Homo sapiens: one gene and its partners. The protein of the gene in region 2 interacts with the protein of the main gene of each other region in a pairwise test. Each region holds a gene or a part of one and is shown on either strand. Other genes may lie near its edges.

Region 1 (3,748 bases), on a different chromosome or scaffold from region 2:
TCTGTCCACAGGCTGGAACCTGACTCCGCCTTACAAAAGGAATGAAGCATGGAATGGCATACGCTTCAACACGGAGGAACCGTCAAACCCTCCCGCTGCCTGCAGGGAACCATGGACACGAAATGCCCGTCAGCAAATCTATAGAGACAGGAAGCAGATCGATGGTTCCCAGGGGCTGGGGGAAATGGGGAGTGAGTGCCAAGGGGTATGGGCTCTTTCTGGGGCGATGAAGGCTTCTGGAATTAGATAAAAGTGATGGTCGCCCCACCTCACGAATATACTAAAAACCACTGAATTGGCTAGTGCGGTGGCTCACGCCTGTAACCTCAGCACTTTGGGAGGCCGAGGCAGGCGGATCACGAGGTCAGGAGATCGAGACCATCCTGGCTAACACGGTGAAACCCCGTCTCTACTAAAAATACAAAAACAAAATTAGCCGGGCATGGTGGGGTGCACCTGTAATCCCAGCTACTTGGAAGGCTGAGGCAGGAGAATCACTTCAACTCGGGAGGTGGAGCTTGCAGTGAGCCGAGATCGCAGCACTGCACTCCAGCCTGGGCGACAGTGCGAGACTCCGTCTCAAAAAACCGAAAACCAAAACAAACAAAAAACAACCCCCCCACCAAAAAAATACCACTGAATTGAGAGCTTTAAGTATAGTTTTAAGTTGTGGTAAAAAACACGTCATAAAACTTGCCAAATACAGACAGCTTCATGAATCATGTGTCATCTTTCCTGGGAAGGGGCAGGCGGCCGAGCGTCACAAACATTGGCCAGGCTGCCAAACCCCAAAGCGGCTCTGAGCATGAAGCCCCCCAATGGCGCCTGCCTTGCCCACCCTGCCCGCCCTCACCTTTCACCAGCGCCTTCAGGATGACCGTGTCCAGCTCCTCGGAGCCCTCCTGCTCGAAGTCATACACGGTGAGCAGGTGCTGGTGTGAGGTGATGTTCTGCAGCTGGGCACCAGAACAGAGCCCCCATGGGGCCGCCTCAGCCAGGACGGGGGCAGAGGCAGGCCGTGGTAGACACCAGCGTAGGCACAGGCAGCGTCCCCAGGTGAGCCTTGCAGCCTGCATGCCCACCGCCCACCGGGCCCGGCCTGGGACCACCCGCAGACCAAGGGGCTGCCTGGGTCTCTCTGCTCCCTGTGGGCCTGAAGCGAGAGTGGGTGGGGGGCCCAGCAGCCTGAGGTGGGAGGAGTGGGCTGGAGGCTGCATTGCAGGAACTCTCCCAGAGGACCAGCCCCACCCCCGGAGGAGGGGTCGGGAGGACAGGGGAGGGGGCAGCACATACCAGCTTGGTCCAGCGCACGATGTCCTCCCAAGAGAAATGCTTGCTGGGGAACTTCTCCTTAAACTGCTTCTCGGCCACCTTGGGCACCAGGAGGTGGGGCTGGTTCACTAGGGCAGCAAGCACATCGGCGATGCCCCCCGAGCCTACCAGGATCAGCCACGGGGCAGCCTGCTCCACGGCCCTGGAGATCCTCTGAGACGGGGAGGGAGGGGAGAGCGGACCCCAGATTAGCCCGACGACATCTGGATGCAGGTGTCAGGGGTGCCCCCATCCCTTCAGCCCTGTCCCAGGGGTGCCCAGAACCCACCGCACCCCTCCACAAGGCTTCGGCCAGCCAGGGGGCCTCAGCCAGGCCCCTACCTCCAAGGTGTTGGGATCACCATTGACCAGCAAGCAGAGGACAGGGATCTCGATGCTGCCAGTGCCTGTGGACAGGGCACCCGTGAGGCCTGAGGACCCTCCGCCTGGGGTGACCACCCGGATCTCAGGCTCTCAGGCCACCACATTTTCTGGCCAAAAGCTGGCTCTTCCGAATAAAGTGTGGGCTTCGTCTGGGCCACGTGACACAGGCTGCTTATTACAGCCCCTGCCATATGAGGGCCGAGGGCTCCAATGCTAACCTACACTACCCAGCACGCGCACTTTGTGGCAACAGCTGGCATATGGCTGTTAAAACACAAAGTGACGTGGAAGAAACGGAGCACCCAGCCCTACAGGTGCACTGCCACACTGCACGCGCTCATGCTGAGCATGGCAGAGGCAGCATCTCGACCATCGAGGGAGCTCTGCTGGGTGGGCTGCGCCTGACCACTCAGCAAACTGAAGAGGTACAGGAGGGAGTCTTCAGGTTTCTCCCCCAAACAGAAGCTGGAAATGAGATGTCTATATGTGAAGCCCCCAGAGAGGCCTGGACCTGCCCCTGTCTTCTGTGAGGGAGTGAACTGCCTGGAGGTGCCTTAGAATCACCCACAGGGAACTGGGCTCGCAGGCGGGCCCCTGACTTTGAAAGGTGCCTCCTGATTGAATCTGGAGGATAAATCAGGCCTGGCCAAACGGTGCCCGGGCCAGCAGGGCTTCCGCAGAGCAGAGCCAGACCCTCCGCCTGTGTCCCTAGAGTTTGACGAGACTTTGTGTTTTCAATTCTAAAGAGTGCTCAGTTGACCGGGCACAGTGGCTCATGCCTGTAATCCCAGCACTTTGGGAGGCCAAAGCAGGCAGATCACCTGAGATCAGGAGTTCAAGACCAGCCTGGCCAACATGGTGCAACCCCGTCTCTACTGGGAAAAAAAAAAAAAAAAAAAGAGCCGGGCATGGTGGCACATGCCTATAATCCCAGCTACCCGGGAGGCTGAGGCAGGAGAATTGTTGGAACCTGGGAGGTGGAGGCTGCAGTGAGCCGAGATTGCACTCCTGCACTCCAGCCTGGGGGATGGGGGACAGAGTGAGATTCTGCCTCAAAAAAAAAAAAAAAAAACAGAGGGCTCAGTTGGCCTTGCCAAGAAATTACAATTCTGTTTCTAAATATTGTATATTGTTCATAGATGTTATAAATAATTATATGCTTTGTTTATGAATATTATTTACACACTAGCGTTTTCTTAGTAAGTCCAGCTTTTGAACGTGCGACTGGCCAGAGGTGCCCATTTCTCGGGTGACGCTGCCCTCTGGCGGCAGCATACCTCACGCCTGGCGGCGGGAAGTAGCCCTCTTTCAACTCACGATCTCATTTTGCCTCTTAGAGTCCCGGAGCCTCTGACCACGGCAAGGCCCAGTGAAAACAGAACTGCACCTGCTCTGGTGGGAATGTCACTGTCCAGTCAGAGCCACTCTGTCCAGCTGTGCCTCCTTCACCACTCTGCCCAGACAGCTCCTCCTCCCAGGCCCCCACGGCCCAGGCCCCCACGGCCCAGGTCTCGGTGCTCAGGCATGCGGGGTGCGTTCTGCCTGGGAAGCCCTCCCCCTTCTCCCTGGCGGTCACCCCCACTCTCCCACAGGCGGGTCCCTGGATCCCCACTGGGTCCCAAGGCTTCCCTGGGTGGCTGGGGCGGGTCTCACCCCCGTAGCCCGCCCTCTGCTCCGAGATGTGCTTCTCCAGCCTCAGCCGCAGCTCCGTCAGCCCATCGCCCTTCCCCGGGGGGCCTGGCTCCACCAGGATGAAGTGGGAGAGGTTGCTGTCCAGTGAACAGAGGGGGCCCTGGCTGCCGCCGTCATCCTCAGGGTAGTGGACAGGAAAATCCTCCTGCGCCCATGCAGGGAGACGAGGCTGAGCCCTCGAGAGGCAGCTTGGGCTGGTCCCGCTGCGGGATCCTCCCTGCCAGGCCGTGCACACCACGCCATGGGGCCCCGCACAAGGCTTCTGCCCGAGCCTTGGTTTCCCCACCCTTCAGACAAAAGGAGGGACGAACAGCTGGGGCCCGGGGACCCTCCTTCGACAGTCAGGGGCAGGGGCGGTGGG
Region 2 (3,434 bases):
AGTTTTTATTTTATTTTTATTTTTATTTTTTTATTTTTTTTGAGATGGAGTCTTGCTCTGTCACCAGGCTGGAGTGCAGTGGTGCGATCTCGGCTCACTGCAACCTCCGCTGCTCACTGCAACCTCAGCCTCCTGGGTTCAAGCAATTTTCCTGCCTCAGCCTCCCGAATAGCTGGGACTATAGGCGTGCACCACCATGCCCAGCTAATTTTTGTATTATTAGTATGTTGGCCAGGATGGTCTCGATCTCGACCTTGTGATCTGCCCCTTGGCCTCCCAAAGTACTGGGATTACAGGTGTGAGCCTCTGCGCTTGGCCTGAGGTTCAGTCATTCTTGATTTTCCATCTTCAGAGTCCCTTATAATCTGCTCCCCCATTTCTTTGAACTAGCTCAAGTGAGTCTCATGCCATGTTCCCAGAGTCCTTGCTAGAACAAGGACCTTGGCCCTTCACTGAGTGAGCCTCCCCAGGCCTCTTCTGTCCCTTTCTCCCCACCCCAATCCTGTCCCAGTGTAGGGAAGAGCAGGAGCCCTCAGCACAGTTGCACCTTTTATTCACTGTCAGTGGGGAAAGAAACACACCACACAGCACAGGGTTGAGCAGTGAGGGCAGTCACTGAGTGCACAGCCAGAAGCAGCACATCTGGAGGGGATAGGGGGCTACACTGGAACTGGCCTCCTTCCCCTGCTACCCAGACCCCCCACTTCCCCAAGCCTCCTTTCTACTGCTGCTTAGAAGGCCCTGGGCCTGACTGGCCTCCACCAAGCAGGAAGGGCTATACACCCTGGCAGGCCCAGTCCTGCCCCCACACTCTGGCAAAGGTAAAAAGAAAACCTCGAAAATTCCAGAAAGAAAATCCCATATTTTTCTGACTTTTTAATTCCAAGGTTTGAATTATTTCTTTTTTCAAGAATGATGAATAAAACATGTAAGACATTCTTGACCCCACAGTGATCTCTAAAGTCAGCTCAAAGCCTCACCCAGGGTGGATCTTCAGGAAATATTTGTTGCTTCAATACATTTTTGTGTAAAAAATATTTAGTGTCAGCTTACTACCCTGCCTGGAGACCCCAGCTTCTTCTCTTTCTTTTCTTTCCCCCATCCCACGCCATTCCTTCTCTCTCTGCAGCAAGGCAAATTTCTACCTCTAGAGACTCTGCCATTGTCAGGAAAGGATTTAGTGCCTTTACTTATGAACTAACTTTTTCTTCACTTTTGATATACAGGTAAGTTAAATAATCCTGACTACAGCTGAAAGGACTAAAGTGGCCATCTGAAGTAGCCTTTGCTGATAATTTTTAGAGATAAGAAATAAGATGCTCATCAATTAGCCCAAAAGGATGAATGAGGGTAGAGTATGTGAGAAGGCAGATTCTGGGACCTTGCAATTCACAGAGTTGTTGCAATAAGATTGGAATTTAAAGGAGAGTTTGAATATATCAATGTTTTGATTGTCTGTATATTTTTGTGTCTGTGCAAGTCATACATAAATCTCTGCCAGCCTTGTGCTTTGCGGCAAGTCTCTCTCAGCTGGTGCAGGGACGGGAGACCTGTGTCTCTTCTCAAGGCAGGGCCAGTGCTCTACCACAGTGCTCCTGAGCACACAGTCCCTGGGACACCCAGGAGTATGCAGGAGCATGTCCTGGGCCACCTGTTGTTCCTTCCATCAGCAAGATGGTGGTCCCAGTTCCTGGCCTGGCATTGTGTGTTCACACTGCTGGGCTGTCTGAGAATATTGGGCCTGAGGAGCAAAAATCACCCATGGGTATGTGTGTCCAGAAGCCTGGAGTAATCAAACACGCCTTCATGGGTAGGCATGTTTCTCTTAGTGAAGATGATGGTGGGTAAAGACAATGCAGGATGCTTCGAGGGTTCTGAGTCAGAGGACTCCCAGGACAGCACTGAGCTGTTAGCACAGCTGCCAGAGGCAGAACACTGAGTGCTTGAAAATGTGGGGACTTCAACCAAGCTCCTATTTTTTTTGGAAGACCACAATCTCAGAAGCTTTTTAGCAGGAAGCCTATAAAGGATGAATATCAATGTAACTTGCCCTGCTGTCAACCTCTGCACAGCTTAGTCACAGAAATGGACAGGGAAGAGACTCTGAAAAGAAGAAATCCTCTTAGAGCCTTGGTTCAAGTCTTAGCCCTGTGTCACCTCCTGACTATGTGATCTTGCACAAGGGATGCTTCCTCTCTGAATCTCAGCTTCCAAGTCTAGAGAAAAGAAGTGAAAATCCTCACCTCCATGGGATGTGAGTATAGAATGAGATGGGGCACATGGCAAGCCTTTGAAAGCCATGAAATTCTGTGTGGTTGCGAATTAGGCTAGATTCAGCATTTGCAGGGAAGGAACCTCACTTAGTGAAAAGCTTTTCACCAGAAGATTTAGGTCCCAGCTAAGCCAGGCTGGTGAGCATCTATGTGTCTGTGATGCTGACTGACCGCACAAGACATACCTAATAGCCAGTTCCTGGGAGCAATGCAACATCCTTGAGGCATTGCTGGATAAACAACTGCTAGTTCCTGCCTGAGGATGTGAACTCCCCAGCCTCACCATATGGCTGGTCATGAGCAAGAGGATAGCAAAAGGATAGCAACCCAGTGGTTGCAAACCAGTGGTTGCTATCCCCAGCAAGAGGATAGCAACCCAGTGGCCTTGCTACCTCCAAGGGCCCAGTAGAGCTTGGGACCAAGCTCTATTGATCAGCATCCCCCAGAGTTTTCACCTGCAGAGAAGCAGGACAGGTGGGCACTCAGGAGTGAGGAGCATGCTGCATCTCTTTCCTGCAGATGCAATTCCCCTGCCCCGGGCTCAGCAATCATTTCCTGCTCCCACCCTGGGCTGACAGCACCTGTGTACTAGACTGTTTTCACCGGCAGTTCAAGAGGAAATCAACTGTCACTGCACGTCAAAGGTAATTTCTGATCACAAGTACAGGAGAAAGACCTGATGAAGAAGCAAGATTAATTTTTCCGGCAGTCAAAGCATGCAGCTGTATAGCTCATGGATCCAAAATTGGGAAGCAGGCATTGGAAAGCAGAACCAGCACACTTGGAAGATGTTGAACTACCTGGCAGATCTAAGATTTGGGGTTAGAAAAAGCCTCTCAAACAGAGCATGCCTGGCACATTTTTAGGCATTTCGTCCATAAATTATGTCTGGGTGCCTAAACAGTGGCCAGGTGAGCCTTTTCTTCTAGCTCTTTCTGATTCTGTGGCAGTGAAGGAACAAGTCCAGTTCTGAAACTAAACCCAATCCAGAAACGAACTACCAAGATACGGAATATACACTAGTTTCACTCTTTGCAAACCTTGCTTTTTCCTGTCCCTGAAGTCAGCACCCAACCGGAGTAAGTATGTAGCAGAAAGTTGCTTGTTGAATTGAAAAAGGTAATAAAAAGGAAGAGCTGAAGCAGCAAAAACTGCTGAGAG
Region 3 (3,748 bases), 1.4 Mb from region 2:
AGGGAATCAGTGCCCCACGTTTCCTCCCTCCCTCCCTTTAACTCCCTCCCTCGAGGGCTTTGATTTTTGCCTCCAACTGTAAAGGGCTTGCAAATATGGGAGTGGCCAGGCCAGGTCTGTTGCACCCTGGGCTCTGGAATGATTTTATTCAACTTGTGAAAACAACTGTGAACATAATTCTCTCTGCTCCATCACTTGGTTGGACCTCCCCCAGGAAATCTGCTCATTTAGGGTGCTATTTTCACAAGAACTGCCCAAGAACAGAGAAGCTTGGCAGAAGAGTAGAATATAGCCATAGCCAGCAATGGTATGGGTACACAATTTCTGATCTACATAAGGGCACTAGAATTTTGGCAACATTTGGAACTGTTTCATGCTTGGTGTTAGTTTACTTCCTATCATCTTTTTCTATAAAAATGTATCAGTATAAACCTTAAAAAGCAAAGACCTGTGTATTTGTCTCTGAGGGCAGCAAGGACATGGGGATTTGGGGAGATAGGTCATTCTCAAGAACCAGTTTTGAGGCAGGAGAAGAACCCCAGAGAGGGTATAGGAGAGCAGCTAAAGAGAGGCAGTAAAGAAGGCCAGGTTCCTACAGACCATTACACAGAAACAAAGAAGAGACCAGGGAGTAGGCTGGGCCTCAGAAGGGACATAAGGCTTAATTTCCCAGGCACTTCCCAGTCTTTTTTTTTTTTTTTTTTTTTTGAGACGGAGTCTTGCTCTGTCACCCAGGCTGGGGTGCAATGGCACGATCTCAGCTCACTGCAACCTCCGCCTCCCAGGTTCAAGCAATTCTCTTGCCTCAGCCTCCCGAGTATCTGGGACTACAGGCGTGCACCACCATGCCTGGCTAATGTTTTGTATTTTTTTTTAGTAGAGACAGGGTTTTGCCATGTTGGCCAGGCTGGTCTTCAACTCCTGACCTCAGGTGATCCGCCCACCTCAGCCTCCCAAAGTGCTGGGATTACAGGTGTGAGCCACCGCACCTGGCCAATTCCTAGTCTTCTATAAAAATTCCCTGCCTGTCTGCTCCATCCTCCTCACAGCCAAGTACTCCCTAGTCTGGGTTCCCACACCACTCTGTATACATTTCCCTATTACAGCACTTCTCACAGTTAGCTATGTATATTCTTTCTTTTTCACTGGTATGGAGCCTAAGCTGTCATCTTCTATTCTCCCCTTCTCCTGACCAGTGTCTGGCAATCACCTGACACATAGTAAGGGTTCAATAAATGTTTGCTAAAATAATACAGTCTGGTTATTTATGGAGTCTTCCATGCCAGCGGGGTTTCCTGAAGCTGGTTATTACAACCTGCTAGGGAGGAGGGGCAGGGGAATATGGAATAGCATCAGTTAAGACTGAAAGGCTCTAGGTCAAGTCTTCATAGGTTTAGTGGCTAAACAGGATTTTGGATTTAGGAAAACTGAAACAGAATCAGGACACAGGAGAAAAAATGAGTATTCTGTGAGAGCAAAAAACACTGTGTCACTGAATCAAACTCTCATAGCAGTAAAGAAAAAGGAAATGACTTTTCCCAACCACCCTGGGATTTAATTCTCTTCTTCTGGGCCTGGTTTAGGACGAGGAAGCTAAGGAATCAAAGGAATGATAGAGGAGTTCAGTGGTTCCTGAAACCAGGTGGGAGGCTGCAACAGTCTGGAGAAACCCTCCTGCTGCCACAACATAGCCCCCTCTGGATTCTTTCTCCTATACTTTCTGTACGGACAGGTCAATCAGGTAGATGGGGGGAATCAGTTTAGAGGCTCACTGAAGCAGAATCTGTGGGTATTCTCCTTGGCAGAGGTATGCATAAGGCTCAGAGGGGCTCTTGGGGGGTTGGAGATGAGGAATGGAATACCTTCACATTTTTCCAGAGCCTGCAGGTATGAAGTGGGAACCAGGATGCCTTACAAGAAATCAACCAGTTGAGAAGGTGGGTCCTTCTGGCTGGGAGGCAATATGAGCCAAAGTGTGCTTACCTGAGATAACCTCACCACCATGGCCTTGCTTGAGGAAGCTGAAGACGGTTTTCTGGTGATAAGCACAGTCGATACAGGCCTGGACAGCCTGCTGCAACACCACAGAGGCACGGGCTGGTCCAAAATGGTCAGGGAGTTGCTGGACCTTCTTCTTATCTAAGTGGGGGCCTGTGCTGCCATTCTTGTTCAAGTAGATACAAACTATGGGAGACAAAGAATCAAAGAAGCTTCAAGAGTCTCTGGGATAGAGAAGTCAGAGAACAGCATCCTATTCCATCTTTTATACCTTGGCCTCTGGTTCCTAACAGAATTCCTAGCAGCTGAGCTGGTGAAATGCTGTGGGAGGTAGAGGGTGGAGGGTCAAGAAAAGGCTGTGCCCAGCTACTGCCAACCCAAACTGCATGATCAAAGTCTGTGGGAAGACTGGAAGAGTGGCCCAGACCAAAGGCCAAGACACAGAGTTTGCACTTTGTCTTCTGTGCACTGAAAAGAAAATCTAGACAATTCCCCTCTTGTACGTACTTCCATTTTTTTGTACTTGGTTGCCTCACATATTCTTTGTACCTCTTACCATATATGTGTAAGGCACTGTGGGGCAATGGCAATATTAGCAAGGGCATATGTGTGTGTGTGTGTGTGTGTATGTATGTCATTGGATTTAGAATAGTTGCACCATTGATCATTTGCCTTGCTTTCTGTTTTGGGCCTTAGGGTCCCTTTGTTATCTTCTACATCAACACTCATGCCCAAAGAATATAATAAAAATTTTAAAAAAAATTGGATTAAAAAAAAAAAAGTTGGGCTGGGCGTGGTGGCTCACGCCTGTAATCCCAGCACTTTGGGAGGCTGAGGCAGGTGGATCACGAGGTCAGGAGTTCGAGATCAGCCTGGTGAAGAGGTGAAACCCCGTCTCTATTAAAAAAAAAAAATAGCCGGGCATGGTGGTGGGCGCCTGTAATCCCAGCTACTCGGGAGGCTGAGGCAGGAGAATCGCTTGAACCTGGAAGGTGGAGCTTGCAGTGAGCCGAGATTGCGCCACTGCACGCCAGCCTGGGGGACAGAGTGAGAATTGGTCTCAAAAAAAAAAAAAAAAATTGGGTGCAGTGGCTCACATCTGTAATCACAGCACTTTGTGAGGCTGAGGCGGAAGGATCACTTAAAGCCAGGAGTTTGAGACCAGCCTGGGCAATACAGTGAGACCACATCTCTACAGAAAATTTGCTAGGTGTGGTGGCATGTGCCTGTGTTCCCAGCTACTTGGGAGGCTGAGGTGGGAGAACTGCTTGAGCCCAGGAGTTCAAGGCTGCAGTGAGCTGTAATCGCGCCACTGCACTCCAGCCTGGATGACAGAGACTCCGTCTTTAAAAAAAAAAAAAGTGAAAAGAGCTTGAGGGTCCCAAGACGGCTAAGCACTCTCCTAGCTACTGGCCTCCACCTGGCACTGCAGTGGGGAAGGGGTGCAGTGGGCACAGGAGACCGAGGCAGTCCTAACAGAGTTGTCTCTGGAGTTGTTCTCTCCTCAGGACCCACAGCAACCTGGTCAGCAATGACATTTTCTCCTCCATCTGCTTTCCAGCTTCCCATTTGAGTAGCGGGTACTATTCTTTCTTGTGTGGTTGTGGCTCACTAGCTGAAGGGGTAGAAGGGCAAAAGTCTCTTTGCTATTAAAGGTAGAAAAGATAAGAGCAGTAATTGTGTGGCCCGTGGATGGACTGTTGTTCTCCTTGGGTCTCAGGTTCACCACCTGAAAAATGAAGTGACTGAG

What was found.
Region 1: the proteins of HPCAL4 (region 2) and TRPM5 interact in binary tests that used the Homo sapiens proteins (3 or more experiments, as listed by UniProt).
Region 3: the proteins of HPCAL4 (region 2) and SCMH1 interact in binary tests that used the Homo sapiens proteins (3 or more experiments, as listed by UniProt).

The regions. Positions count from the first base shown.
Region 1 is NC_000011.10:2,416,874-2,420,621, forward strand, and holds part of TRPM5 (transient receptor potential cation channel subfamily M member 5), read right to left. Parts: intron 3,533-3,748; coding exon 3,349-3,532; intron 1,719-3,348; coding exon 1,654-1,718; intron 1,486-1,653; coding exon 1,294-1,485; intron 957-1,293; coding exon 854-956; intron 307-853; exon of another isoform or gene 1-306. UniProt on the Homo sapiens protein: Monovalent cation-selective ion channel activated by intracellular Ca(2+) in a voltage- and temperature-dependent manner. Mediates the transport of Na(+), K(+) and Cs(+) ions equally well.
Region 2 is NC_000001.11:39,678,112-39,681,545, forward strand, and holds the end of HPCAL4 (hippocalcin-like protein 4), read right to left. Parts: 3' UTR 537-3,434; downstream 1-536. UniProt on the Homo sapiens protein: May be involved in the calcium-dependent regulation of rhodopsin phosphorylation.
Region 3 is NC_000001.11:41,046,707-41,050,454, forward strand, and holds part of SCMH1 (polycomb protein SCMH1), read right to left. Parts: intron 2,185-3,748; coding exon 1,984-2,184; intron 1-1,983. UniProt on the Homo sapiens protein: Associates with Polycomb group (PcG) multiprotein complexes; the complex class is required to maintain the transcriptionally repressive state of some genes.